Linked DNA regions of Homo sapiens. The protein of the gene in region 4 purifies or fractionates together with the protein of the main gene of each other region. This does not show direct contact. Each region holds a gene or a part of one and is shown on either strand. Other genes may lie near its edges. The genes, in order: ARCN1, COPZ1, COPG2 and COPB2.

The links.
Region 1: the proteins of COPB2 (region 4) and ARCN1 fractionate together in Homo sapiens (co-fractionation; 5 studies listed by BioGRID and IntAct, with this or other methods). This does not show direct contact.
Region 2: the proteins of COPB2 (region 4) and COPZ1 fractionate together in Homo sapiens (co-fractionation; 6 studies listed by BioGRID and IntAct, with this or other methods). This does not show direct contact.
Region 3: the proteins of COPB2 (region 4) and COPG2 fractionate together in Homo sapiens (co-fractionation; 4 studies listed by BioGRID and IntAct, with this or other methods). This does not show direct contact.

The regions. Positions count from the first base shown.
Region 1 is NC_000011.10:118,575,404-118,582,428, forward strand, and holds part of ARCN1 (coatomer subunit delta), read left to right. Parts: exon of another isoform or gene 1-1,495; intron 1,496-5,842; coding exon 5,843-6,106; intron 6,107-7,025. UniProt on the Homo sapiens protein: Component of the coatomer, a cytosolic protein complex that binds to dilysine motifs and reversibly associates with Golgi non-clathrin-coated vesicles, which further mediate biosynthetic protein transport from the ER, via the Golgi up to the trans Golgi network.
Region 2 is NC_000012.12:54,320,785-54,328,146, forward strand, and holds the start of COPZ1 (coatomer subunit zeta-1), read left to right. Parts: upstream 1-4,346; 5' UTR 4,347-4,379; coding exon 4,380-4,397; intron 4,398-7,362. UniProt on the Homo sapiens protein: The coatomer is a cytosolic protein complex that binds to dilysine motifs and reversibly associates with Golgi non-clathrin-coated vesicles, which further mediate biosynthetic protein transport from the ER, via the Golgi up to the trans Golgi network.
Region 3 is NC_000007.14:130,546,734-130,553,758, reverse strand, and holds part of COPG2 (coatomer subunit gamma-2), read left to right. Parts: intron 1-1,328; coding exon 1,329-1,404; intron 1,405-2,414; coding exon 2,415-2,518; intron 2,519-3,109; coding exon 3,110-3,235; intron 3,236-4,382; coding exon 4,383-4,445; intron 4,446-5,216; coding exon 5,217-5,356; intron 5,357-5,913; coding exon 5,914-6,085; coding exon of another isoform or gene 6,086-6,117; exon of another isoform or gene 6,118-7,025. UniProt on the Homo sapiens protein: The coatomer is a cytosolic protein complex that binds to dilysine motifs and reversibly associates with Golgi non-clathrin-coated vesicles, which further mediate biosynthetic protein transport from the ER, via the Golgi up to the trans Golgi network.
Region 4 is NC_000003.12:139,372,642-139,379,666, reverse strand, and holds part of COPB2 (coatomer subunit beta'), read left to right. Parts: intron 1-200; coding exon 201-287; intron 288-493; coding exon 494-620; intron 621-1,477; coding exon 1,478-1,626; intron 1,627-4,052; coding exon 4,053-4,199; intron 4,200-5,078; coding exon 5,079-5,178; intron 5,179-5,858; coding exon 5,859-6,001; intron 6,002-6,254; coding exon 6,255-6,454; intron 6,455-7,025. UniProt on the Homo sapiens protein: The coatomer is a cytosolic protein complex that binds to dilysine motifs and reversibly associates with Golgi non-clathrin-coated vesicles, which further mediate biosynthetic protein transport from the ER, via the Golgi up to the trans Golgi network.

The DNA.
Region 1 (7,025 bases), on a different chromosome or scaffold from region 4:
GATAACGGGTGTGTGTGTGTGTGTGTGTGTGTGTTTTAATTCTCTGCAAGCTTTTGTTTTAGAATAGAAATGTGATGGACTTAAAACCCTCACTGAGTAAATTACTTTTCAAGTTTTAGGTTTCGTATGTGGTCTACATTTTATTGTAATCTTCTCTCTGATTTTATCTATAATAGCTTCATATAAATAGAAAAGACAGAACAGTCCTCCCTGACAATTATAGAAACTAGCCTTAATATGACCATGAATTGTGTGTGCATGTATATGTGTATAAAATATTGCGGTGAATTACAAAGGAGAAGGTGACTATAATTCTGGAAGTAAGGGATCCTGAAGCATTTAGAGATTCAAGAAAGAACTTGACTTTTTTTGAGAGAGAGTTGTGCATATTTATCCTGAATTATTATACCACCTGTTATTCTTGTATCTCTCTTGCACACACAATTTGTTATGGTTAGACAATTTGCCTTCTGGCAGCCTAATGTTACTATAAAATATTGTTCCAAAGTGGTTAGAACTGGAGCAGTGGGTATAAAATGGAAGTATTGTACATTTTCTGTCACTGTAGTTGTTTTTTTTTTTTTCTGTTACTGTAGTTTTCAAATGCTTAGACTTACAGAACTTTAAAGACACAGAGCACTTTGGATTTCATGTAAACTAACCTCCTATGTTAGGGATATTTCAATAATCAATTAAGTGACTTATCCAAGGTCACATAATTAGTGGCAAAGGCAGAACAGAAACCTAATTCTCCAGGTTTTTTTACTTGAGGCACTTAACAATTCATGTAGTTAAGTCTGTGTAGGAGAGAGTTGTTATTTAGTCCAAAGATAGTGTACTCAAACCATGTAAGAATTATTAAAAGTTGTTTGGCAAAGCTCAACTTTATGAGGGAATTTTTTTTTTTTTTAACCGTCCTGGAGAGATCATCTAACTTATGGGCCCTCAGTTTTCACATCTGTAAGACAATCAAGGGCTCTTGCAAGTTCCTTTTAGATCTGGAATGTTTTTTCCAAAAATGTTAAAAAAAAAAAAAAAAAAAAAAACCAAAAACTTTGTAATCATATTTATTAATTCTTCCTCAGAGAAAATCAGATCAAATTTCAATAGGGAAAATTGTTAACTTACCTTTTAGTATATGCTATATTTTAATAATTGTTAAACCAGTAAACATTAATGTAAAGAGGTTTATTATTTCAAGAACTTTAAGAAGACAAATGTTAATTTAGGATAGGATAAATTTATCATGTTTAGAGGTGACCATACCTTCTAGCCATATTAGTAGCTGTAACAGAGAGACCTGTGTCAACTGCCTGGAACCTGTAATTTGTGGTGTCCTGGGTGTTCGGAGATTTATGCTATACTTAGTATGGGGAACTATGGTCCTATTTTGGAAGCCTTGTTTTGCTTGTATCTGGATAATGGAATGACTCAAAGAGAGACATATGATTTTACCCTACTTCTTTCTTCATCTTGACGTACTGAAAGCCTGGAATTCTGGCCAGGTGTGGCGGCTCATGCCTGTAATCCCAGCACTTTGGGAGGCTCAGGCGGGCAGATCACTTGAGGTTGGGAGTTTGAGACCAGCCTGGGCAACATGGCAAAACCCTGTCTCTACAGAAAAATACAAAAAATTAGCCAGGTGTGGTGGCCTGTGCCTGTAGTCCCAGATACTTGGGAGGCTGAGGTGGGAGAATCACCTGAGCCCAGAAGGTTGAGGCTGCACTGAGCCAAGATCACGCCACTGCACTACAGCTTGGGCAATAGAGCAAGACTCTGTTTCAAAACAAACAAATCCTGGAATTCATCAAAGCATGATCTAAATTCTGTTTCTTTCTTTCTTTCTTTCTTTTTTTTTTTTGAGGCAGAGTCTCACTTTGTAGCCCAGGCTGGAGTGAAGTGGTATGATCTTGGCTTACTGCAACTTCCGCCTCCCAGGTTCAAGCAATCCTCCCACCTCACTCTCCCCGTAGCTGGGACTACAGACGTGCACCACCAGACTTGGCTAATTTTTTGTATTTTTTGGTAGAGACAGGGTTTTCCCATGTTGACCAGGCTGGTCTCGAACTCCTGACCTCAGGTGATCTGCCTGCCCTGGCTCCCAAAGTGCTGGATTAAGGCATGAGCCACCGCTCCCGGCCTAAATGCTGTTTCTTCTATCAAGTCATCCCTGACTGTACCAGCTGGAAGTAATCTCTTCCTCTGAATTTCCACGCACTTTATCGGTTACTCTCTCATGTTACTTAACACATTCTGCCTCATATTACAGTTATTTGTGTTTGTGTCTTATCCCTATTAAGCTTCTTGTAGGCAGAATGCTAGCCTGTGTCATCTTAATTCTCAGAAAGCATGTTGTATGTATAGTAGATGTTCGATAAATAATTACTCAGTTAATTCTTATAATATCGCAAAAATGGAGATTACCAGTACCTATAATTAGTTTTTGAACATGCTCATCAGTAAAGTGGATGGGCCAGGTGCAGTGGCTCACTCCTGTAATCCCAACACTTTGGAGGCCAAGGCGCGCAGATGACTTGAGGCCAGGAGTTGGAGACCAGCCTGCCCAACATGGCAAAACCCTGTCTCTATTAAAAATAGAAAAATTAGCCAGGCTTGGTGGTGCTGGCCTGTGCCTGTAGTCCCAGTTACTCAGGAGGCTGAGGCATGAGAATTGCTTGAACTCAGGAGGCAGAGCTTGCAGTGAGCCAAGATGGCACCACTGCACTCCAGCCTGGACTACAGAGTGAGACACTCTCTCAAAAAATAAATAAATAAATAAATAAATAAATAAATAAATAAATAAATAAATAAAGTGGATAGTAACATACACCTTTTTGTTCCTTTTTCCCTCTCAAGTTGCTTTTGATGTTTTTACCTAAATTTTACTTGTATGGTATAGAGGTGTTTTTAACTCCAGTTGGAAACCTAAGAACTACCCTTGAGCCTGTAAACATTGTTTCTAACAGGTTTATTATTAGATATGGGGTTTCTATTAAATGCAGCATGTTTATATAGGTCTGAAGTTTTGGTCTGAGCTGTCCTTTCTTTAGGTGTTCATTTGATTTGTCTTATTTCTTCAAAACCTCATAAAATTCTAACATAGAGGACCATGACTTCCTAGAGCTATGACTCTCAACCTTTTAGGGATAGGAGGCTCTACAGGGATTACATTTACAATATGCTCCCATTTATTAATAATATTTCTCATCGCATGAGGGGATTTTCTATGGGCCATTTGAAATAACTTCTCTAGAGGATCGATGCATTCCCTGAAACTGTATGTAAAATTTTGGGGGGAGAGTCAATATTCATTATTTGAATATCAAAATATTGACAAAGGCAAAAATCCATTGCCTTGGCCGGATGCTGTGGCTCACACTTGTAATCCCAGCACTTTGGGAGGCTGAGGTGTGCGGATCACTTTAGCCCAGGAATTTGTAGCCTGGGCAACATGGCAAAACCCCGTCTCTCTTTTTTTTTTTTTTTTTTTTTTTTTTTTTTTTAATAAAAAAAGAAAAATCCATTACCTTGAAGTGGCATAAATTTTTTTCATGAGATGCATGTTTATTATTACTAATGGTGCTGTTTTACATCATGAATATATGTGCTACAAGTTGTATAGCACTTCTGAAGTACAGTTTCATTATAGTCATTTGGCCCTCATAATAGCTTGTAAGGTCATTAGATAATGCTGCATTTTATAGGAAAAGAAACGAGGTTAAGAGAGGTTGGGTAACTGAAGGTCAGGCAGATAGTAAATAGAAGAACAAAACTAGAAAATAGATTTTCTCACTCCCAGTCATTTAGTTTTTCTAATATCAGCTTGGTTCTTTGCAAATTTGGGACACTAGTTCTAAGTCTTTAGGAAAAGGAGAAACCAATGTGAAATGATCCCAAATATAAGGGAATTCCCTACTTTTCTGATGAAACTATTAAGAAGGAAAGCTTTTTGCCAATTGTATAAACTTTTTAAAATGCAGCCAAAATAGGCCGGGCGGTGGCTCATGCCTGTAATCTCAGCACTTTGGGAGGCCGAGGTGGGCAGATCACCCGAGGTCAGGCATTTGAGACCAGCCTGGCCAACCAACATGGTGAAACCCCATCTCTACTAGAAATACAAAAAAAAAAAAAAAAATTAGCCGGGCGTGGTGGCAGGCGCCTGTAATCCCAGCTACTCGGGAGGCTGAGACAGGAGAATCACTTGAACCTGGGAGGTGGAGGTTTCAGTGAGCGGAGATCTTGCCATTGCACTCCAGCCTGGGCAACAAGAGCAAAACTCCATCTTAAAAAAAAAAAAGGTAGCAAAAATAGTCAAATATGTTCTTAAAATAGTTAATAATTCACTTATATGTATATGTTTTAAATAAATAAAGTTTAATTTAGAAATAATTACTTTTTTCCATTTTCATATTAATAAAACAATTTTTTCTAGATTCTTTATGAACATCATGTCATCACTGGGGCCACTTTTTGAATCATCAGTTTGGTATTTAGCAGTTTTGAATCCATGTGTGATATATTGGCAGTTTGGGAAATTTTATCCCAAGTCATAAAAACCCATTTATATAATATTAGGATAGTTGCTTTTAAAAGGAATATTTTGTAACTGATATTCAACACATGAAATTGTGAGTTCTGGCTAGGCGTGGTGACTCATGCTTGTAATCCCAGCACTTTGGGAGGCCAAGGTGGGCTGATCACTTGAGTCCAGAAGTTCAAGACCAGCCTGGGCAACATGGTGAAACCCCACTTCTACCGAAAATACAAAAATTTGCCAGGCATGATGGCACCTGCCTATAGTCCCAGCTCCTTTCAGGGGGCTGAGGCAGGAGGATTGTTCAAGCCCAGAAGTTGAGGCTACGGTGAGCCAAGATTGCACCATTACAGTCCAGCTTAGGTGACAAAGTGAGACCCTGTCTCCAAAAAAAAAGAAAGAAATTGTGAATTCTGATCCTCAGGATAATTACTAAATCCAGTGACCTTTTGTTAGTACTACATGCAAAACTAGCGTAGTTTGAAGATAAGATGTATCCCAGACAATTATTTTAGTTCAATATAAAGTCATTGAGGGAGCACCTTTAATATGAGAGACTATGGAAGGATTCAAAACTACACAACTCTTTTTTAAAAATATATAAGTATTCCTTACATAAAAATATATTACCATGATAGCATATTTTCACACCTAAAAAATTAGCAATAATTTTTAATATTATCAATTATTCAGTCACTGTTCAAATTTGATTTATACATTGTGATTGATTGACATGTCTAAGTCTCTTAATGTGTTTGTATTTTTAGTAGAGATGGGGTTTCACCATGTTGGTCAGGCTGGTCTCGAACTCCTGACCTCAAGTAATCCACTCGCTTTGGCCTCCCAAAGTGCTGAGTTTACAGGTGTGAGCCACTGTGCCCGTGAAAGTCAGTATTCTATTACTTGTCATGTCAGCTGGTCGTGGTAGTTCACGCCTATAATCCCAGCACTTTGGGAGGCCAAGGCAGGAGGATCGCTTGAACCCAGGAGTTCAAGACCAGCCTGGGAAACATAGCGAGATACTGTCTCTACTAAAAGCTTTTTAAAAATTAGCGAGGCTTGGTGGCACACACTTGTAGTCCCAGCCACTCAGGATTTCTTGAGCCCAGGAGTTTGAGGTTGTAGTGAGCTGTGGTCTTGCCATTGCACTCCGGCATGGGTGACAGAGTGAGACCCTGTCTTAAAAATAATACTACTACTAGTCATGTCACTAAATAAATATGTCATTCTATGGAACATTTCCTGAGATGCTGAGAAAACAGATGTGAAGAAATAATTAGTACTTACTTATGCATATGTTCCTGGCAGGTGCTGTTGGCAGCAGCGGTCTGCACAAAAGCAGGAAAGGCTATTGTTTCTCGACAGTTTGTGGAAATGACCCGAACTCGGATTGAGGGCTTATTAGCAGCTTTTCCAAAGCTCATGAACACTGGAAAACAACATACGTTTGTTGAAACAGAGAGTGTAAGATATGTCTACCAGCCTATGGAGAAACTGTATATGGTACTGATCACTACCAAAAACAGCAACATTTTAGAAGATTTGGAGACCCTAAGGCTCTTCTCAAGAGTGGTAAGAGTACTGCTATAATACTGGGTTCCACTTTTTGTTTTACATTTTATGTGAAACTAGTTTTTCCTCCAAAGCAGCTGATGCTAACCAGTTTGCAGGTTCCTACTCCGCACCCCAGCGACTTATTGCTGCAGCACCTTGTTTATTCAGCAGACATTTATTGGGTGTCCTCTTAGACTATAGATGTCTCAAAAGAATATGGGAACTACTGTTTCATTTCCCAGTTCTTAAGCAGTTGTTCTAATCTGCCGTTCTAGTTCTGACACTTGTTTGGCTATGCTTTTTAGGTAATGTTTTTTAGGTAAGACTTACTGATCCAGAGACAGACACACACACACACACCCCTCTTCTAAGACTTTATGCCAAAGTCTTGCTTAAAATGAAGACTTAGGTAAGACTTACTGATCCAGAGACAGACAGACAGACAGACACACACACACACACACACACACACACACCTTTTAAGACTTTATGCCAAAGTCTTGCTTAAAATGAAGGCTAAGGCCAGGTGCGGTAGCATGTGCCTGTAGTCCAAGCTACTCAGGAGGCTGAGGCAGAAGGATTGCTTGAGGCCAGGAGTTCAAGTGCACAGGCATTATACTTTAGTGTGGGCAACACAGCAAGACCCTGATTCTTTTTTTTTTAAAGACGGAGTCTCGCTCTTGCCCTGGCTGGAGTGCAGTGGTGCAATGGTGCAATCTCGGCTCACTGCAACCTCCACCTCCCAGGTTCAAGCAATTTTCTGGCCTCAGCCTCCCGAGTAGTTGAGATTACAGATGTGCATCGCCATGCCTGGCTAATTTTTGTACGGGGTTTCACCATGTTGGCCAGGCTGGTCTCGAACTCCTGACCTCAGGTGATCTGCCTATCTTGGCGTCCCGAAGTGCTGGGATTACAGGCATGAGCCGCTGCACCCGGC
Region 2 (7,362 bases), on a different chromosome or scaffold from region 4:
TGGCTCACGCCTGTAATCCCAGCACTTTGGGAGGCCGAGGCAGCCAGATAACCTGAGGTTGGGAGTTCGAGACCAGCCTGACCAACATGGAGAAACCCCGTCTCTACTAAAAAAATACAAAATTAGCTGGGCCTGGTGGCACAAGCCTGTAATCCCAGCTACTCGGGAGGCTGAGGCAGGAGAATCACTTGAACCCTGGGAAGCAGAGGTTGCGGTGAGCCGACAGTGTGCCATTGCACTCCAGCCTGGGCAACAAGAGCGAGACTCCATCTCCAAAAAAAAAAAAGTTAGCTAGGGCCCTAGAAAGCTCTGGTCTGAACCTCTCCCCTTTCCAGAAGTGACAGCTATAGTCCATCCAGAGAGGGTACAGAGACTTGCAGAGTTCTCTCACTGATTAAAGCAAAGTCACAACAATAACTAATGTCTCTAATTCAGTCAATTGTCTTCCTCCCACAGCACAATTACCCCAACAGGCTGGAGAGCTAAGAATCAAGCGATCTTCTGCAACAATATCTGACTTAAAATTTGTCAGTTACTACACAGAAAAAGGAGCCAACCATCCCCATGAACCAACCATACCACACTTTTTCCTCCTTATGGTCCTTGTAGAATATCTGGCACTGAGGTAGAGTCCTTGAGGTAGGACTGGGATGCAAGAGAGGCAGTACAACAAACTAGAGGAGTGGACTGTGGGTAAGAACATGGTTTAGAGTCTCCTGTGCTCAAACGTATGGCTGCTAAAACAGTTCTGTAGCCTTAAGTAAATTATTTAACTGCTCTAAACTCCATGTTGCTCATCTGTAAAATGGGTTTAATAATCATCTACTTCGTAAGGATTTTTTATTTTATTTGTTTTTTTTGAGACGGAGTCTCACTCTGTCACCCAGGCTGGAGTGTAGCATGCAATGTCGGCTACTGCAACCTCTGCCCTCTGAGTTCAAGCGATTCTCCTGCCTCAGCCTACCAAGTAGCTGGGATTTCAGGTGCCTGCCACCGCGCCCGGCTAATTTTTTGTATTTTTAGTAGAGACGGGGTTTCACCATCTTGGCCAGGCTGGTCTTAAACTCCTGACCTCGTGATCCACCCGCCTCGGTCTCCCAAAGTGCTGAGATTGCAGGTGTGAGCCACCGCACCCGGCCAGGAATTTTTTTTTTTTTTTTTTTTGAGACAGAGTTTTGCTCTTGTTGCCCATGCTGGAGTGCAATGGCAGGATCTCGCTCATTGCAACCTCCACCTCCCGGGTTCAAGAGATTCTCCTGCCTTAGCCTCCGGAGTAGTTGGGATTACAGGCACCTGCCACCACACCTAGCTAATCTTTGTATTTTTAGTAGAGACGGGGTTTCACCATGTTGGCTAGTCTGGTCTCGAACTCCCGGCCTCAGGTGATCTGCCTGCCTCAGCCTCCCAAAGTTTTGGGATTACAGGCATGAGCCACCATGCCCAGCTACTTCATAAGGATTTTAAAAAATGTATTCAATAATGTATTTAAAGATTTAGCACCGTGCCTGGCACATAATAAGTGGGCAGTAAATGTTAGTATTACCTTTAAGCTGCAAAGCCAATGACAACCCACTGACTGTGATGCCAGGCACAGTAAATGTGTGAACAACTCTCCTTGAGGAATAAAAGGACAAGCCTTCACTTCTTCCAGATATAAGGCTTAACACCTGGTATTCCACCAGAAATTCACCTTCTGTCAGAGTACACTGTAGGTCTATAATTTGCATTGTATTGTTCAATTTTTTATTTTATCTTATTTTTATATACAGACTGGGTCTCCCTGTGTTGTCGAGGCTGGAATGCAGTGGCTATTCCCAGGCACAATCACTGCGCACTACGGCCTCGAACTCTTGGGCTCAAGCATCCTCCTGCCTCAGCCCCTGGGGTAATTGGTACTACAGGCACATGCCACAGCGCCCTTGTATTGTATTGTTTTATGTTTCCTTGATTCTACTCCGACTATTAGAAAAATTCCTGGGTGGCTGGGCCCGGTGGCTCACGCCTGTAATCCCAGCACTTTGGGAGGCCAAGGCGGGTGGATCATCTGAGGTCCGGAGTTCGAGACCAGCCTGGCCAGTATGGCGAAACCCCGTCTCTACTAAAAGTACAAAAATTAGCCAGGGGTGGCAGGCGCCTGTAATCCCAGCTACAAGGGAGGCTGAGGTGGCAGGGAGAATCGCTTGCAACCGGGAGGCGGAGGTTACAGTGAGCCAAAATCACACCACTGCACTCCAGCCTGGCGACAGAGAGAGACTCCGTCTTAAAAAAAAAAAAAAAAAAAAAAAGGCCGGGTGCAGCAGTGGCTCACGCCTGTAATCCCAGCACTCTGGGAGGCCGAGGCGGGCGGATCACGAGGTCAGGAGATGGAGACCATCCTGGCTAACACGGTGAAACCCCGTCTCTACTAAAAATACAAAAAATCAGCCAGGCGTGGTGGTGGGCGCCTGTGGTCCCAGCTACTCTGGAGGCTGAGGCAGGAGAATGGCGTGAACCCGGGAGGCGGAGCTTGCAGTGAGCCGAGATTGAGCCACTGCACTCCAGCCTGGGGGACAGAGCGAGACTCCGTCTCAAAAAAGAAAAATTCCTGGGTAAGTTTGGAATCTCTTCTTGGAGGGCTCCTAAGGATATAATTTTCAGAGATGAGGGAAAAAATCCCTTTAGGATAATTAAGGTAATAGGTGTCCCTGCCCTAAGAGGAGTCAGGGATCAGGAAACCAAGGGATAGGGGAAAGCCAAGCTTCATCAAAATCATTCCCTATTGTGAAATTCTTGCATTCAGTAAACTTCTCTTTTCTCATTTTGCAACGCCTCATTTCTTTCCTCTCCTTTCTTTCCTTCTCTTTCTTTCTTTCTTTCTTTCTTTCTTTCTTTCTTTCTTTCTTTCCTTCCTTCCTTCCTTCCTTCCTTTCTTTCTTTCTTTTCTTTCTTTCTCCTTTTCTTTTCTCTTCTCTTCTCCTTTTCTTTTCTTTTCTTTTTTTTTTGAGATGGAATTTCGCTCTTGTTGCCCAGGCTGGAGTGCAATGACGAGATCTCGCCTCACCTCAACCTCCGCCTCCCAGGTTCAAGTGAGTCTCCTGGTTCAGCCTCCCGAGTAGCTGGGATTACAGGCATGTTCCACCACGCCCGGCTAATTTTGTATATATGTATATTTTTTGAGACGGAGTCTCGCTCTGTCACCCAGGTTGGAGTGCAGTGGCGCGATCTCAGCTCACTGCAAACTCCGCCTCCTGGGTTCACGCCATTGTCCTGCCTCAGCCTCCAGAGTAGCAGGGACTACAGGCGCCCGCCACCCACGCCCGGCTAATTTTTTGTATTTTTAGTAGAGACGGGGTTTCACTATGTTAGTCAGGATGGTCTTGATCTCCTGATCTCGTGATCCGCCCGCCTCGGCCTCCCAAAGTACTGGGATTACAGGTGTGAGCCATCACGCTCGGCCTGTATTTTTTTTTTTTAGTAGAGACGGGGTTTCTCCATGTTGGTCAGGTTGGTTTCAAACTCCCGACCTCAGATGATCCGCTCGCCTCGGCCTCCCAAAGTGCTGGGATTACAGGCTTGAGCCACCGCGCCCAGGCACAACGGCTTGTTTCTATTGGAAAACCCCAGAATTTACTCCCTATAACCCCTCTCTTATTCTAATCCCATCCCTTTCCCCGTTTGTCCCGCAAACCCCATCTCCAAAGCCGATTTCACGTTGAGCTCAAGTTGGCCTTTACAAACTGACTTCTCATGTTCCTCAGGCCCAGCAAAGCCTGGAACTCCACCTTAGGGAGATTGTTATTGCGACTATCAACTCCTGGCAGCCTTGGTTTATGTAGTTAACATGTTGGGCCTTTCTTGGCTCTACTCTATGGTTGTGCAGACTTTCTGTGAGGATGCTGAAGTGACCTGAGCGAGCATGAGGGAAGGGCTAGCCACAGAGATCATGGACCTAATGCGGGCGCTGAAAATAGGGATTAGGGCAGGATTCCGGTTAGAAAGCGCCAGTGTTAAAGGCTAAGGAGACACAGCGCCCCCTAAAGAGGGTGCGGTTTAAAAATCGCTAAATCAGTCCGACAATATCACGTGTCCTCGGCCCTACCAATTGAAAATTAACAATCGCTTCTTCTGTTCCCCATGGAAACAACCCCGCCCCACTAACCCTCCCGCCCCAATGAGTCGTGAGGTTTTGGCGTTTTATTGAGTATTCAAGCTGACAATCAAACACCTGAGCCTTCTGGTTGGACACTTTGCTTCCGGTAAGCAAGCTAGTACAATAATTGGCCAATAAAGCAAGCCTTACCCAATGATCCTTATCCTAGGCGGGGCCTAATGGGAACGTATGGCCAATCAGCGGCGGCGTTTCTTTTGCGGCTCCACGTCGGCACCAGCTGCGGGGCAAGATGGAGGCGCTGATTTTGGTAGGAGCTGGAGGGGCAGCAGAGATGCTGTGGTGTCCACAGGGGCCGGGAGTCAGGGTTCAGCCCGAGTGGGAGACGGGGAAAGAGAGTTCCGGGTAATTCTTGGGGACTGAGCGTTCTGCTGACCTTTGGAATAAGTGTGTGGCCTAGTGTAGGAGCTAAAGCCTTGGTTTAGAGTAGGAAGCCCTGCCGGGGAGAGGGCATAGAGTCGGTGGAAAGTTGAAGGCAGCACATGGACTCCTTAGGATACACAGACCTGTAGGCGTACTGGATTAGGACCCTTCAGGTTGCCCCTTATTTTTAGCATTGTGGATGATACCCTGATTTTAATTTACCAAACCACCAAACTCGCCCCATATTGTAAGAAAAGAATACAGATGTTTTGTCGTTACAGACTCCTCCTGATGGTTTCCCAAGTTTGACTCTCCATTGCCGATTCCCTGCCACATTCCTTCAGGAAACTGTTTTGTCTTCGGTTTCCTGTTAATCCCTATTATATAGGTTTGTCAAATAATCAGTATTCCATCAAAGTTCTGGGATACCTGATAAAGTTAGCATGGATTGTGGAATATTTTTTCTAGACTCCTTATTCTGTTCTCCTTTTCTCTACCCATTTAGACCTTAGGAATTCTTTTTTTTTTTTTTTTTTTTTGAGACCGAGCCTTGCTCTGTCACCCAGGCTGGAGTGCGCACGTGGCGCGATCTTGGCTCACTGCAATCTCCACCTCCCGGGTTCAAGCTATTCTCTTGCCTCAGCCTCCCGCGTAGTTGGGACTATAGGCGCGTGCCACCACGCCCGGCTATTTTTTTTGTATTTTTAGTAGAGACGTGGTTTCACCATGTTGGCCAGGCTGGTTTCGAACTCCTGACCTCAAGTGATCCGCCCGCCTCGGCCTCCCAAAGTGCTAGGATTACAGGCTTGAACCACCGCGCCTGGCCAGGAATTATTATTATTATTATTATTATTATTATTTTTGAGACGGAGTCTCACTCTGTCGCCCAGGCTGGAGTGCAGTGGTACGATCTCGGCTCACTGCAAGCTCCGCCTCCCGGGTTCACGCCATTCTTCTGCCTCAGCCTCCGGAGTGGCTGGGACTACAGGCGCTCGCCACCACTCCCGGCTAATTTTTTGTATTTTTTAGTAGAGACGGAGTTTCACCGTGTTAGCCAGGATGGTCTCGATCTCCTGACCTCGTAATCCACCCGCCTCGGCCTCCCAAAGTGCTGGGATTACAGGCGTGAGCCACTGCGCCGGGCCAGGAATTCTTATTGTATGATCTAGGATGCTAATTTCTCCCTCTCTGGTTACATGAGAATTGTGGTCGCTAAAGGGCTGTATTAGCCCTCTTGTCCATATGATGCTTTATGCTTGTTCTAACAAATAAAATACCTGTTACCCCTTTTTAGAACTGGACCAGAGAATTTCTCTCAAAAGTGCCCTATTTTGCGATTTGGAGGGGTGTGTGTGTGTGTGTGTGTGTGTGTGTGTGTGTGTGTGTAGGTAGGTAGGTAGTATAGTGTAGGAATTTAACTCCCAGCCTTCTTCCTTAATTGGCTTGAACTCTAGGCCTCTTTCCAAAGAAGCTTGTCTTTTATTTTCCTTCAGATCTCCTAAGCATACACATTCAGATCCTCATCAGATAAAAGAATAACAGGTTTTAATTCCTCTCTTTCAGTTAAAGACAGTTAATTCCTTATGTCGGTTGGTCAAATATAGGTAAAAAGCTTAAAATCTGAGTAGTTTTAAATATTTTCTGTACCAAGCAGTTAACAAGTATTCTTTTTTTTTTTTTTTTTTTTTTTTTTTTTTTTTTTTTGAGATAGAGTCTGGCTGTGTTGCCCAGGCTGGGGTGCAGTGGTGCAATCTTGGCTCACTGCAACCTCCGCCTCCCAGAATCAAGCAATTCTCATGCCTCAGCTTCCTGAGTAGCTGGGGTTACAGGCACGCGCCACCATGCCCAGCTAATTTTTGTATTTTTAGTAGAAACAGGGTTTCTCCATGTTTGCCAGGCTGGTCTAGTCTTGAACTCCTGACCTCAAGTGATCTGCCTGCCTTGGCCTCCCAAAGTGCTGGGATTACAGGTGTGAGTCACTGCACCCCGGCCAGTTAGCAAGTTTTTTTTTTTTTTTTTGGAAACAGAGTCTCGCTGTGTCACCCAGGCTGGAGTGCAGTGGTGTGATCTCACCTCACTGCAACCTCTGCCTCCTGGGTTGAAGCAATTTCTCCTGCCTCAGCCTCACGAGTAGCTGGGACTACAGGCACGTGCTGCCACACCTGGCTAACTTTTTTGTATTTTAGTAGAGACGGTTTCACTGTGTTGCCCAGGCTGGTCTTGAACTCTTGAGCTCAGGCAATCCACCTGCCTCAGCCTCCCAAAGTGCTAGGATTATAGGAGTGAGCCACCGTGCCCGGCAGCAAGTATTCTTAATCAAGAGGTTGAGTGCAGTGGCTCATGCCTGTAATCCCAGCACTGTAAGAGGCTGAGGCAGGAGGATCGCTTGAGCCTGGGAGTTTGAGGCTGCAGTGAGCTATGATTGTGCCACTGCACTCCAGCATGGGTGACAAAGCCAGACCCTGTCTCTAAAAAAATAAGAATAAAAAACCTCCCCCTAAACCCAATTAGCAGACTAGGATAGATTCTAGGGAATTGGTTTTTTTGGAAGTTTTTAGACTTACCTATATATGTTTAGAAGGGAGCCTGCTTAAAGGTAAAGGAATGAGGAAGATAATAATTGGGGAGCCCTTTTAACAATGGGCCTGTGTGTAGTGGGTAAGCTGGGGGAGTTATATGTGAAAGTATCTCTGTCGGGCGCAGTGCAGTGGCTCATGCCTGTAATCCTAGCACTTTGGGAGGCTGAGGTGGGCGGATCACTTGAGGTCAGGAGTTCGAAACCAGCCTGGCCAACATGGTGAAACCATGTCTCTACTAAAAATACAAAAAAAAATAGCTGGGCGTGGTGGCAC
Region 3 (7,025 bases), on a different chromosome or scaffold from region 4:
CCAGCACCATTCCTTAAAATATTAGTTCTCTGTAAGATTTTGACTTCTCAACATCTACATTCCTCTTGGTGATCATTTTCAGAGCTCTGCTAATAGGCTGTGACATTCCAGTCATGTCTCTTTCCTGAACTTGTTTGTCCAAATAACTTAAAGCACTTCAAACTCAACCTGAAATTCAAACTAACCTCACATTCATCATCCACTCAGTTATCAAGATAGAATCTTGTTCTGCTGCCTTACAGCCCCTATCTGTTCTTTAGCAAAGCGCTTTCAATTGTGTCTCCTTAATATTTCTTCATTCTCTTCTATTTTCTTGGTGCTGATTGAGGCTGTCATCCGTTTCAGATCCCTAGCTATCTGACTGCTTCTAGACTCACATATATCCTGCCTATTCTTTACACTCTGCTAAAAAAAAAAGAAAAGGCGGGGGGGACTTTCAAATGTACAAATTTATCTCATATTTAATATCCTTTAATAATAATGTTGAGATTAAACCATACCCTAATTTTGTTTTATTGCCAGTCTCTCCCTTGTCTCTTCTTGCTCTCCAACATGGGTCCTTTGCTCAGCCTTGCCCAACTGTCCAGTAATACACCACACTTTCTTCTCTGGGCAGGGGCCATTCGAACGTGTTATTTTCTCTGCCTCTAATACTCTTATCCTGCCTTTTTCCTCTGGCTAACAGTACTTGGTCTTCAGATTTTAGCTCAAGTAATATGTATTAACTCTTTGTCTTAGTTTTCCACCACCAATTCGGATTTAGTTCCTTTCTGTGTATTCACATAGCATCCTGGATATATTTCTTCCATGGACTTACCTATGATGTCTTGTAATTGTCTCTCTACATACCTATCTTTCCCACTAGAGTGTAGCTCCTTGAGATCAGGGACATGTCTTTTATCTGTCCCAGTACCTAGCACAATTCCTGACAAAAGTTTGGTGAACAATGAATCTTTGTTGAATGAGAGGAATTTTAATAATAGAATTTCTTTTTATGCTTGGGGCTGGTTGTTTGAGATTAGAGCTTAATGACATCAGTGTGATATATAAGGGGTTGTGGTGGGGTGGAGATATAGCTCCTACAGAAAATCTATATGAATCTTTTTCCTCAATTTTTGGAAGATTTTCCTATTCAGAGCTCTCTTGGGCTTGCAGAATTCTATTTATGCTTAACAGTATCAAAGAAATAAGATCAAGAAACACTCAATAAAACAAGGGAGTTTATCTCCACTGAACATGGGGACACTTTTCTAATTTTTTTTCAAATGGTTATTGGTTAACTCTGAGAAACCAATATTTATGTACCATAATTGTATGCTTCATTATAGCTGCTGTGAGTGCTTTGGCTAAATTTGGGGCTCAGAATGAGAGTCTTCTCCCAAGCATCCTTGTACTCTTACAGAGGTAAGTTAAATAATGTCTTTTCTAAAAAAAAATAAGAATTCTATATGGTTAAACAGTGAAATCCTCATTCTACCATAGGGCGGATGCACTCTAAGCCCTAAGAGTAGAGTTATTGGAGCAAGTCAGGGGCAAATGGCAATTCCTTTCTCTTTTTAGTAATTATGTATACCTCCCAATCAATTTGATGTGCTATTGACTGATCACTTCATGAAAGCCCCTAGCCTTGGTTTACACAATAGCCTACATGTTTCCATCACTCCTCACTCTTATTTATAGAGCTTCTCTTCCCAGCCCCATTCCCTAAAATATTAGTTCTCCATAGGGTTTTATTTGCTAGGTACATGTCACATTTGATTTTGGCTTTCTCTCACATGATTTTGAGAAAGTGACTTAAATACATTTGCCTCAATTTGTACAACAGGGGCTTACTTAAAAAAACTGTTAGGTAATTCACTATGCAGAGTTAAAAATAATAGTTTTTCATTGTCTTCATGACTCTATTTGATGAGGAAAAGACTTGCTTTAGCAAACTGTGATTGCATCTTATAATTGAAGCAGATAAATTACAAGCCAAAGGTTGGCTAGTTTACGTAAAACAAATTGTCATTTGAGCAAAAACAGTGGCTGGATTTTGAATTTATCTTTTCAGTATCCTTGGAGAGTATAATACTCCCATTTCCTAATTACAGAGAAGTCTAAGTCTTCAACAGGGTCATGTAGTTACAGATGGAAGAAAAGACTCCAGACTGCTATTTCATGTTCTTGTGCTCCTCGTTATTTTAATGCCTACTTATGTAGTGCTTGTGATTCACAGTAGCAGTATTTCTTTAGTAATTCAGAGCAGTACCCAAGATTTGTGAAGACTTTAGGAGCCACTGTTGGCTATTGTTGAGCACTTTTTTAAAGGTAGTATCAGATGACGACCTGAGCTGTGTCCTTTAGATTTGGTAGTAGAGCTATTGGAAGTCTTTGGGGTACTGTGACATGACTATTCTGTTTCCCCTGGACAGGTGTATGATGGATACTGATGACGAGGTACGAGACAGAGCTACCTTCTATCTGAATGTGCTGCAGCAGAGGCAGATGGCACTAAATGCCACATATATCTTTAATGGTCAGTGAAAGCCAAGGATGTACACTTTTGTTCCTCAAATGGTGTCTTGGAAGCATATTTTATGATTTGCATATGAGCTAACTTCACTAGGCAAATGCTTGGTTTTTGTCTTTGAGTGCACTTCCATTTCTAGAGAAACCTGTGTTTATAGGATATTTTCTAATTTGGTAATGATAATTCCTATGCAGCAATCTATAAGAATATAGATTGGGCCCTTACATTTTTTAGGAACGTTGCTCACTTATTCCTGGTTCTCCTTGAACTCCCTCTTGGATGGGTTTACATTTTTCCCGTTTTCTTATGCTATCATTGTTCCCATATAGCTAAGTTGCTTTCTTTTCTGGGAGGTACATACATTTTGTTGAAAATGTGTATGCTATGCTCCCATGTTTCCTTGAATGAAATAAGTCAGTTTATAAGTTTATAAGGTAATTTCAAGAATATCCTTTATTTTTATATTTAGGTTATAAAGCTTTTGGTTATATTTTTCTCTTCCTTCAGAAAGCTTAGATAAATATTACAAACCTGGGCCTATTTGGATTCGAGGATTGGCAAGAGGTTATAATGCTGAGATTTCTCTATGTTTCACAGGTTTGACGGTCTCTGTACCAGGGATGGAAAAAGCCTTACACCAGTACACGTTGGAGCCTTCAGAAAAACCGTTTGACATGAAATCAATTCCTCTTGCTATGGCTCCTGTCTTTGAACAGAAAGCAGGTTCACTCTATTCATTTTTCTGTGTATAAGTAGTTTTGCAAAACTAAAAAATATTAGCATATTTTCTCTAATACTCATTTAATTGTCACTCTTTTTTTTTTTTTTTTTTTTTGAGATAGAGTCTCACTCCCGTCGCACAGGCTGGAGCACAGTGGCGCGATCTCTAGTCACTGCAACCTCTACCTCCCGGGTTCAAGCGAGTCTCCTTCCTCAGCCTTCCGAGTAGCTGGGATTACAGGCATGCGCCACCACACCTGGCTAATTTTTCTATTTTTAGTAGAGACTGGATTTCACCATGTTGGCCAGGTTGGTCTTGAACTCCTGACCTCAGGTGATCCACCCACCTCGGCCTCCCACAGTGCTAGGATTACAGGCGGGAGCCACCGTGCTCAGCCGATTGTCACCCCTTCTAAATCTTTTAGATTTAAGACATATTTTTATTAGAGTTTAAAAAAAACTCCTGGTTTTTACATAAAAGCAGTAAGATGAAATGCACTCCAAAATGAAGGGTTTTTTTTAATGCAAAGCATTACAGTATCTGAAGTCAGTTGCCACTGTGCATCTCAGAGCAGTAATAGTGCTGTCGCCTCCTATTTTTATTTTCTGAAGTTGATAATCTCTAAGTTAATTGATTTTGTTATTGGAGGTTCGTCTTAAAAGAATTTATGGGCGACAATCATAAAAAATATTCCCAAAGAATATCTAATCTTAAAACTTAAAAACAAAAACAAAAGAAGTCATAAATGTTTAGTGGTTAGAACACAAAACTGGGAAGAAACAATTTTATGCTTATTTTCAACATTTTCAGTTTTTCTGTTGATATAAGTAATTTTTCCTATTTTGATCATGAGAAGATTTTTAAAATAAATTGTTTTTCCTTTTCTGAGTAATTTTTGTACATTCCAGTCCATTTAAAGCAAACTCTATATTTTTAGGGCTTACTTTATGATTCCACAATATATGTTCACTAAATACATTTTAATTTGAGTGTCCCCCCACCAGAAGTGATAGATAACCTATAAGTATGATCTAGTAATAGCTCATTATATATCTGCTAGAAATGTCTGCTCTCCTCTCTTTCTGTCTGCATTGCTAGCTTGATAGTAGTGGGAGAAGTTCACTTACTTGCTCATATCTGTCTTTATAGAAATCACACTTGTGGCTACTAAGCCAGAGAAGTTGGCTCCTTCCAGGCAAGACATTTTCCAAGGTATGATGATTTGATGGTTAGACGTAATAATCTTTCCCCTAGGCATTGTAAATATAAAAAGTCTACCAGTCTTACTCAAATTGATCGGTTCTCAATATAGGAAATCTTCGTGTGGCTGAACACCATAGGGTATAGTTGCTGAGGCTACCTGGAGTCCATGAACTTTCCAGTTTGTAATTGCTAATTGGGAATGTTTTTCTTTTCTGTATCTCGTTGGTTAACAGGGAACTCATTGTAAAATAAGTATTTACTTTCTTTTTTTTTTTTTTTGCTTTTTGCTTTCATTAATATATAAGCTTACTTACTTGAAAGATGACTTCACTAAAACTTGGGGACATATTAGTTGAATGTTCAACTATTAGTAAGGCTATGGAAACTAAAGCATTTTTTTTTTTTGAGACAGAGTCTCGCTCTGTCACCCAGGCTGGAGTGCAGTGGCACAATACCGGCTCGCTGCAAGCTCTGCCTCCTAGGTTCACGCCATTCTCCTGCCTCAGCCTCCCGAGTAGCTGGGACTACAGGCGCCTGCCACCACGCCTGACTAATTTTTTTGTATTTTTAGTAGAGACGGGGTTTCACCATGTTAGCCAGGATGGTCTTAGCCAGGATGGTCTCGATCTCCTGACCTCGTGATCCGCCTGCCTCGGCCTCCCAAAGTGCTGGGATTACAGGCGTGAGCCACTGCTCCTGGCCAACTAAAGCATTTTTTAAGCATCCAGACTGAAGTCTTTCCCTGTCTTCTTCATAGCCTACGTTCTTTTTTCTTGATAGAACAATTGGCTGCCATTCCTGAGTTTCTGAATATAGGACCCTTGTTCAAGTCTTCTGAGCCTGTTCAACTTACAGAAGCAGAGACAGAATATTTTGTTCGATGTATCAAGCACATGTTTACCAATCACATCGTGTTCCAGGTAAGATAATGCCCTTGGCTGCTGTAGAGATTTAGTATAAACTGGTATGCTTTGAGACAAATATCCTTTACCTATAATTCTAGTTTCTATTATAGAGAATTAATTTGGCAGAATTTCTGGTTTTCTTGCTTAACACCAGAGCTATAGAGATCCCTTCATGTGATGGGTAACTTTTGATGGTTAAAATCTAAAGGACATAAAACTGAAATGTGTGATGAAGTTGGACAACATAAAGTATAACCAATTTTCTAAAATCAGCATTTAACATCAGGGTAGATTAAGTGGGCTATTCTGAGAACTTAGATTTGACAGCCATCAGACTTCTGCCATCTTGTTTGAGACAGCAGTCTCAGGAAAGAGAAAAAACTGATGAATAATATAAACAAAAGACCTCAAGAATAAGGCTCTCCCTGTTGCCAAAAGAAGAATCTTAGGAGGAGACCTACCCTGCTCTGTAGAGATAGAAGGTATAGTGGGTTCCAGAGCTGAGTAGTGGGTTATGAGTAGGAAGGATAACTTGTTATCCTTCACAGCTTTTCCATTTACTGACTTTTCAGTTTGACTGCACCAACACTCTCAATGACCAGCTGCTGGAAAAAGTGACAGTGCAGATGGAGCCATCAGATTCCTATGAAGTGCTGTCTTGTATCCCAGCCCCCAGCCTTCCTTATAACCAACCAGGAATATGTTACACTCTTGTTCGTTTGCCTGATGATGACCCTACAGCAGGTACTAACCCTCAGAAGGGAGGAGATACGTGATTCAGAATGCATTTCCTTGTGAGCTCTTCAACTCTTCAAATGCTCAGTTTAAGAATGTGATGCTTTTCTAGAATTTAATGATGAGTGTTTGTGTGTGTGTGTTTGTGTGTGTGTGAATATATATATTTATAAAATGGTTTACTGCTGCAGAAATATTAATTTTAAAACTAAATCTCTGAGTAAAATTTGCTGAACACTTAATCTTAAAAGAGAAACTGAGTGTGTATAGCAGTAGCACAAAAAGGAACTCAAGCTTTCTGTTGGAATAATGTGACCACTTGTGAGAGTTCATATACCTGGTCTCCTGTGAAGAATCTTGACCCTCTTCTCCTCAAAGTTTCTATCTAGTTAGATAGAACTTGGTTATGTAGTAGATTGTTGGCATTTTAAAATACATCATTTTTGAAGGTCCTGTAGCATAAGGCTGGTGTCTGAGAGCATGTCTCAGCCTAGTGAGTAGCTTAGCCAACCATGTGTGTCCACATTAAGAAGGGCTTTTAATTCCCTCCTTGACCCATATGCAGTCTTTGCAGGGTGGAGAAATAGCCCCTAAAAGACAGCCAACTAGTGCCAATAGTAGTATTTACTTATTTGGAGACTTGGGAAGGTGAATGTCAAGTATTTATTCTACTTGATTCCCCCCATCATCATTTTCCTCCTTGATTTCTTCTCTTCTCATGTTCAGTGCACAATATTCGTAACTGTTACCCAGTTTTCACAGAAATAAGCACACACATCACATTTATGTTTTGAACAACTTTTACTGCTCGTAAGTACAGGAGAAACAGAAGTTAAAAAATTAACAAATACTGGGAAAGTTACAGAGTTACAATAAATCATAAAAGCACTAGTAAATAGTTATCCCTGGTCATCATTCAGTTACATTTGGGGCTTAACCTGCTTTCTTT
Region 4 (7,025 bases):
TAAAAAGTGTTTTAATTTCGAATCTATTAAAAGATAGTTGGTCTTTTTTAAAAATTTGAATGTTGAGCTTTTATATTTTAGCCTGAGAATATACTAAAATGAGAAGTGATCTTAAAAATTGGATGTTTGAAATATAACAGAGTAGATTTTGTGGTTATTTTCTTATAGCTCAATTTGTGTATTCTTGTTACATTTTAAAGACACTGGTGAAGACATTTGAAGTATGTGATCTTCCTGTTCGAGCTGCAAAGTTTGTTGCAAGGAAGAATTGGGTTGTGACAGGAGCGGTAAGTAATTAATATGAATCTCTATTCCCATTTTCTGAATTGGTCAATGATTGTGTAAATTTGTTGCAGGATTTTGATTCCCGATTTGTTTTGTTATTTACAGCAATGTTTTGAGGCATAGACTTTATTCCTTGAGCCTGTGATATAGTTTTTTTGTATAATTTACTTGATAACAGGGATGATGGTTTTAAAATTTCTGTTTCTAGGATGACATGCAGATTAGAGTGTTCAATTACAATACTCTGGAGAGAGTTCATATGTTTGAAGCACACTCAGACTACATTCGCTGTATTGCTGTTCATCCAACCCAGCCTTTCATTCTAACTAGCAGTGGTAAGAGATGACCTTTTTTGGTCATGTGCGTCTCTTTGGGTAATTCATTTTCATTCACTGAGACATGCTATGCTTTAACTGCTGTTACAAATATAATTCTAATTCCAAGCGGCCTTTAAACTATTTAGATCCATTACTGTGCTATTGATGCTGCTTGTGTTTGTACTATAATGAAATATCAACTGTACTTAGGATTTGTGTAATGATTGCTCCAGTTCCTGTCAGAGAAGACCTACAAGTCTAGATGTTTAAACATCTGCTGAACAGAAAGGTCATTTACATGTTGATGAGTGAGTTTTTGGCAGATTGCCATAGACCCTATTCAGTTCAATCTTTATATTCAAACTAGTTTGCTCCTTGGTATTGTGTATAAATAGTAGACCTCTTGGAGGACTGGAAAAAGAGGTAGCACTGAATTAGTAATAGCTCTTTGAAATGTTTTTAAATTAAAAATTGAGAAGTAATTAAAAACTTTTTAAAAACCAATCTTGTGAGGGCAAATGCTTGTTCTCTACATAGTCATTGCTATCACTATTCAGTCATGCTTAGATCTAGTCAAACTTATATTACTCTTTGGCCATTCTTTAATGCCCACTGAATTTTTAAGTTTTTTCACAGAATTTTTATATTTTCTATTTCTAATCTATTTTATTTATTTTATCTCCACTTTTCTGTAGAGAGTTAAATTTATTTTTAAGATAAATAAGCATTTTGAAAACTCTATTTGGTTTTGATTCTATTTCTGTAAGTCATGGATTATATGGTTTGTGTTAGGTTTGCTTCTTCTAAAGACTGTGTCTTAGTTATGAAGTGAAAAAATAGAATTACAACTAACTTGAGACTTTCTTTTGGCCTAGATGACATGCTTATTAAGCTCTGGGACTGGGATAAAAAATGGTCTTGCTCACAAGTGTTTGAAGGACACACCCATTATGTTATGCAGATTGTGATCAACCCCAAAGATAACAATCAGTTTGCCAGTGCCTCTTTGGACAGGACTATCAAGGTAGGGCATCCACATTTTGTGTCAGTTATCATTATTAGTGAACTATACTTGCCTTAGGTGTTTTACTGTTGACTGGTCAGAAATGTACCCATCTTAAAAATTTTCCTCAAAAGCCTGTTTTGAAGTCAAAATAGGATTTCTCATTTTAATCCAAACGACATGTTCTGTTTAGAAAAATATTGTGGCAACTCAGTGCTCTTAATGAGGAGCGTTTTTCTGTGTGGAGGCAGCATGTTATAAAAATTTTTTAGCCTTTGGAAACCCAGAATAAGAAAAATGCCAATATCTTTTTAGGATACTACTGTCCTCTCCTTTTAGTATTCATTGTTGACTTCTGCTCATCGTTTATCTATTTTACATTTAAATTCCATATGCCTCTATTCTCTCTTTCTTACTCCATTTTACCACACTGCTGTCTGTTATCTTTCTGAAACAGTTCCTGATCTAAGGATAAAGTCCAAATGCCTTAGTGTGGAATACAAGGATTTCCAGGACTAGCCTGGGCTAATATTATGCGACATCTCCTAAAACCCTGGTCTACTCACCATCCTCTAGAGAGGCTATGAATGTTCACAAAACCTTACTTCATTGAACTGTTCCATCTTCCTGCACTTCTCTTTATTTTCCTATTTTGATATATTTTCCTCCGGAGAATTACTCAGCTTTTAAGGTTTAGCACAAATATTTACTCTTGAGAACCTCTTGTCAGACATCAACTTCACCTCTAGACAGAGCCAGTTATGCTTATCCCATTTCTTCCATTGCTTTTTGCCTCTGTTTCAGCCTTTCTCAGATTGAATTATTATTACACGTTTTTGGAAATCTTTATCCCCTGAAATACTGGATTTGGGGGATAGAAACTGTGTCACTCCCTTTCCCCAGCCATTCAATAGCAAACAGCAAAGTGCCTTACCTGACCTAGATGCTTAATACATGTTGCAGTGAGGGCAATCATGCTTCTTTTTTTTATCATAATATTTAAAATATTTCCATGCCAGGCACGGTGGCTCACGCCTGTAATCCCAGCACTTTGGGAGACCGAGGCAGGTGGATCACAAGGTCAGGAGATCGAGACCATCCTGGCTAACACGGTGAAACCCCGTCTCTACTAAAAATACAAAAAATTAGCTGGGTGTGGTGGCAGGCGCCTGTAGCCCCATCTACTCGGGAGGCTGAGGCAGGAGAATGGCATGAACCTGGGAGGCAGAGCTTGCAGTGAGCCGAGATTGCGCCACTGCGCTCCAACTTGGGGGACAGAGCGAGACTCCATCTCAAATAAATAAATAAATTAATTAATTAATTAAAATATTTCCATATGCATTGACTTAAAATAAATTAACTTTTGCTTACATGTTTGCTTTCACCTATATAAAACACTGTTAGTAGTTTTCCTTTATGTAAAATGTTATGTGTCTGAATATCTTAGGGTTTTAACCTTAGCTATTTTGCCTTTGATTGGATTATCCTTGCTTTTGACATAGATTAACTTTGAAATTAGTTGTAAACTTTTATTTTTACTAATTTAGGTTTATCTTGAGAACAATAATTGTCTTATCTTCAGTTCCAATAAAGTTTATTTTATACAGTAATTGATAAACATTTGTTACACGTTTATACTCCCCACAGGGCCTCCCATATAATAGGCACTCAATAAATATTTGTAAAGATAAAGCTTAATTCTGTGCTGTGGTAATTTTTAACAATTTTCTACACTTTAAATTGGTAATTAGGCAGTAATTTTCTCCTTTTAATAGGCCTTTATTTTTATTTATTTATTTATGTATTTTTGAGTTACGGTCTGTGTTGCCTAGGCTGGAGTGCAGTGGCATGATCACAGCTCACTGTAACCTCAAACTTCTGGGCTAAAGCGATCCTCCTGCCTCAGCCTCCTGAGTTGTTAGGACTACATGCGTGTGCCTTCATGCCCAGCTAATTTTTTACTTTTTACTTTTTTGTAGAGACAAGGTCTTGCTGTGTTGTCCAGGTTGGTCTTGAGCTCTTGGGCTCAAGTGATAACTTCCATCTCGGCCTCCTAAAGTGCTGGGATTACAGGTGTGAGCCACCACACCCAGCAACTTTTAATATATCTTACTAAATCTACTTTCATGAGCTGTATATTAAATCTATAATAAAATAATTTCATAACATCTAGATTCCTGGGCGTCACTGTGGATTGACTGACTTATAATCTCTAGAGATAAAGCCTGGAAATTGGCACTTCTTTTAAAGAACGCCATAGTGATTTTGCTCCCTGAAAATTCAAGTAAAATGAGAAAGAACAAAAACCAAACAGGATAAAAAATAAAATTTGATAGCTCTTCTCTCCTGGGCTTTGGCATTTTACATAATGTGTCAGAAATATGGTGGATTTGCCTTTTGTAAAGCAAGGCCCCATATTGACTGGCCGATGCTGTTTCTCTCTGCAGGTGTGGCAGTTGGGCTCTTCGTCACCAAACTTCACTTTGGAAGGACATGAGAAAGGCGTGAATTGCATTGATTACTACAGTGGTGGGGACAAGCCATACCTCATTTCAGGTGCAGATGACCGTCTTGTTAAAATATGGGATTATCAGGTACAGTTTTTCATAACCTTACTTCCATATGTTAGATATGTTTCTTACTATTTCTTATAGGACAGTTAAGACTTGGGTTGTTGAAAACTGTTCACAGCATAATAACTTAAGGTATCAGTATTTGCACCTAAACTGTGTTCCCAGAATTCTCCATAAAAATGAAAACAATGCATATCAAGATTTTAAAAATAAAATACCAACATGTTCATATTTCATTTCATAATTGCATTTAGAAATTTTAACATTTTAATGTTGAATTATCCTCCATAATCTTCATTGATAGACTTCTATTCATTTTTGTAAGCTAGCAGATCAACAATTACCAACCATTTTGCCAAATCGTACTCTTGTAAACCTAGTTATGAATTCTTGTTAACATGCTTCCTATCTCTAAGATTTTCTTATATTTTGATATTTTTGTTTTCCACATCAAAAGTTCCCATAAGCAATTAATAAAATGAGGTCTAGAAAGTCAGTTTTTCCTTGAAACATTTTCAGATTTGTACTTAAATCCAGAATAAAAATATTAAAGGCTAAAGCAGCACTGTCTACTTAGCCAGTGATGGTAGGTGTGAGTTTTAAGGGGGAAATCTATTATCCTGAGAATTTGGGGGAATAATATTCAGACAAAAGCCTTCTTGGGTTTTTTTCCCCTTCTTTAAATGTGATAGTTACATTTACATTTATTTTACAAAGTAATTAGATAAAATATTCATATATACAACAAGATCATCCTATTTCAAAAATTTCTATATTGGATATTATTTAGATTTTCATGACTACTATCATTTATAATGTATCTGTACACTGAGAAAATTAAGGGCGGGCTGGTTACATGTTTTTCATTAATAAAACATGTTTTCTATGTCTTAATTACAGAATAAAACATGTGTGCAGACACTGGAAGGACATGCCCAAAATGTGTCTTGTGCCAGCTTTCATCCTGAGTTGCCAATCATTATCACAGGTTCAGAAGATGGTAAGTTAGAAGGGTATGTTTATTCCTGTGCTAGTAACTACTCAGTGGGCATTTAAAGCAAGTAATGTCTCTGCATTATAATTGTAGGTTTCCAAGGATTTTGATATTTTTATTAAAGTACCAGACTTAAGCTATAAAAGAGTAAAGGGGCATTATTTTCATCATCATCATCATCATCATCATCATCATCGTCATCATTCTCATGTATTTTGATTCTGTCACTTAAATAAGAGGACCGTCAGCTGTCCTAAAGAGAAACTGAAAAAGCATGTGCTTTGGAGTCAAACAAACCTGGGTTCAAAATCAGGCTCTGTTATGTCATGAATGTGTGTTTGGGCAAATTATGAAATGGAAACATATATATCTGCTTCATAAAATTATAGTGAGAAGAAATTGTGGGTAGAAAGCATCTGGCACATAGGAAACACTTTACCCAGGAAATCCTGTTATTATTTCATGTTTAAAATCGTAATTCTTAGTTTTTGTTTCTTATATGTTATGTGTTATGTTTATGTTGCTTTTAAAAATCATTTAAAGACAGTAGGTCAAAAAATTGGTCATTAAGCTGCCAGGAAGTGTTATCTGTTTGAATAGAAAGACTTCTATGGGTCTCTTTCACCTGACACAGTTTATTGTCGGATGTTTGTATCAAAAGGGAGTATTTACATTGTTCTTTTTAGGAACAGTACGTATTTGGCATTCAAGCACCTACCGGCTTGAGAGCACACTGAATTATGGAATGGAGAGGGTATGGTGCGTGGCCAGTCTAAGAGGGTCAAACAATGTCGCTTTGGGCTATGATGAAGGGAGCATCATTGTTAAGGTAATTATACTATCCCTCTCAGTAGGTGGACATAGGCAAAACCATTTTCTTTGTATTTTAGTACTGTCATCTTCCAAGTAACCAGTTTTATAAAACTGGCACTTCTTTCATTAAGCACTAGACATTAAGCAATGAAGATTTAAAGTGGAAGAAAGGAAATGGAGCTCTCTGTTAGGTGAAAAAAATAATCTGTTTTGTTTTGGTTTTATTCATTTTCCTTTTCATTGCTGAGAGCTATTTTTCTTTCTTTCAGCTTGGTCGGGAGGAACCTGCCATGTCCATGGATGCCAATGGAAAGATAATTTGGGCCAAGCATTCAGAAGTCCAGCAGGCCAACCTAAAAGCAATGGGAGATGCTGAAATTAAAGATGGTGAAAGATTGCCACTGGCAGTAAAGGATATGGGCAGTTGTGAAATATACCCTCAGACTATTCAGCACAATCCTAATGGGCGGTAAGCCATCACCAAAATTGTCCCTCAGCTTCTGTGTATGTTAGAACAGGTTTGCAGATCCACAGTCCACTCTTGCCCTGTGGTTGGCATCTCTAATCATTCCTCAATGTGCTTTTGCCCTGGCCTCACAATCCTCAACACAGCTGCAGTCAGCCATGCCACTTGATCAAGTTGGCACAAAAGATGGAGCATGTTTCCCATCTGGACTTGTTCTATACCACACAATTTTGAATAGTTAAATAGTAGTTTCCTGTTATTTCGCATGCATTGAGTTTGTGTTTTTGTGTGCTCCTTTGAGGGCAAGGAGTATGTCTTATGCTGAGACTTAGTAGGTGCCCTCTCTAAATGCTTGCTGACTCATTGCTCTTTCAAGAAGAAAACCTGACTCTGAGATATGTGTCTTTTGAAAAAGTTTTGGGATTGATAATAATTCTGTTTCTTATTTGTAATTCGAACTGTCAGTTGAATTTCTCCCTTAAGATTTGTAAGTCACCAAACATCTTGTGAGAGAGGAGTTTCTAGCACAGTGAAGTCTAAACCTGTGGAGCTTTAAAATTATTTTACAGCAGGT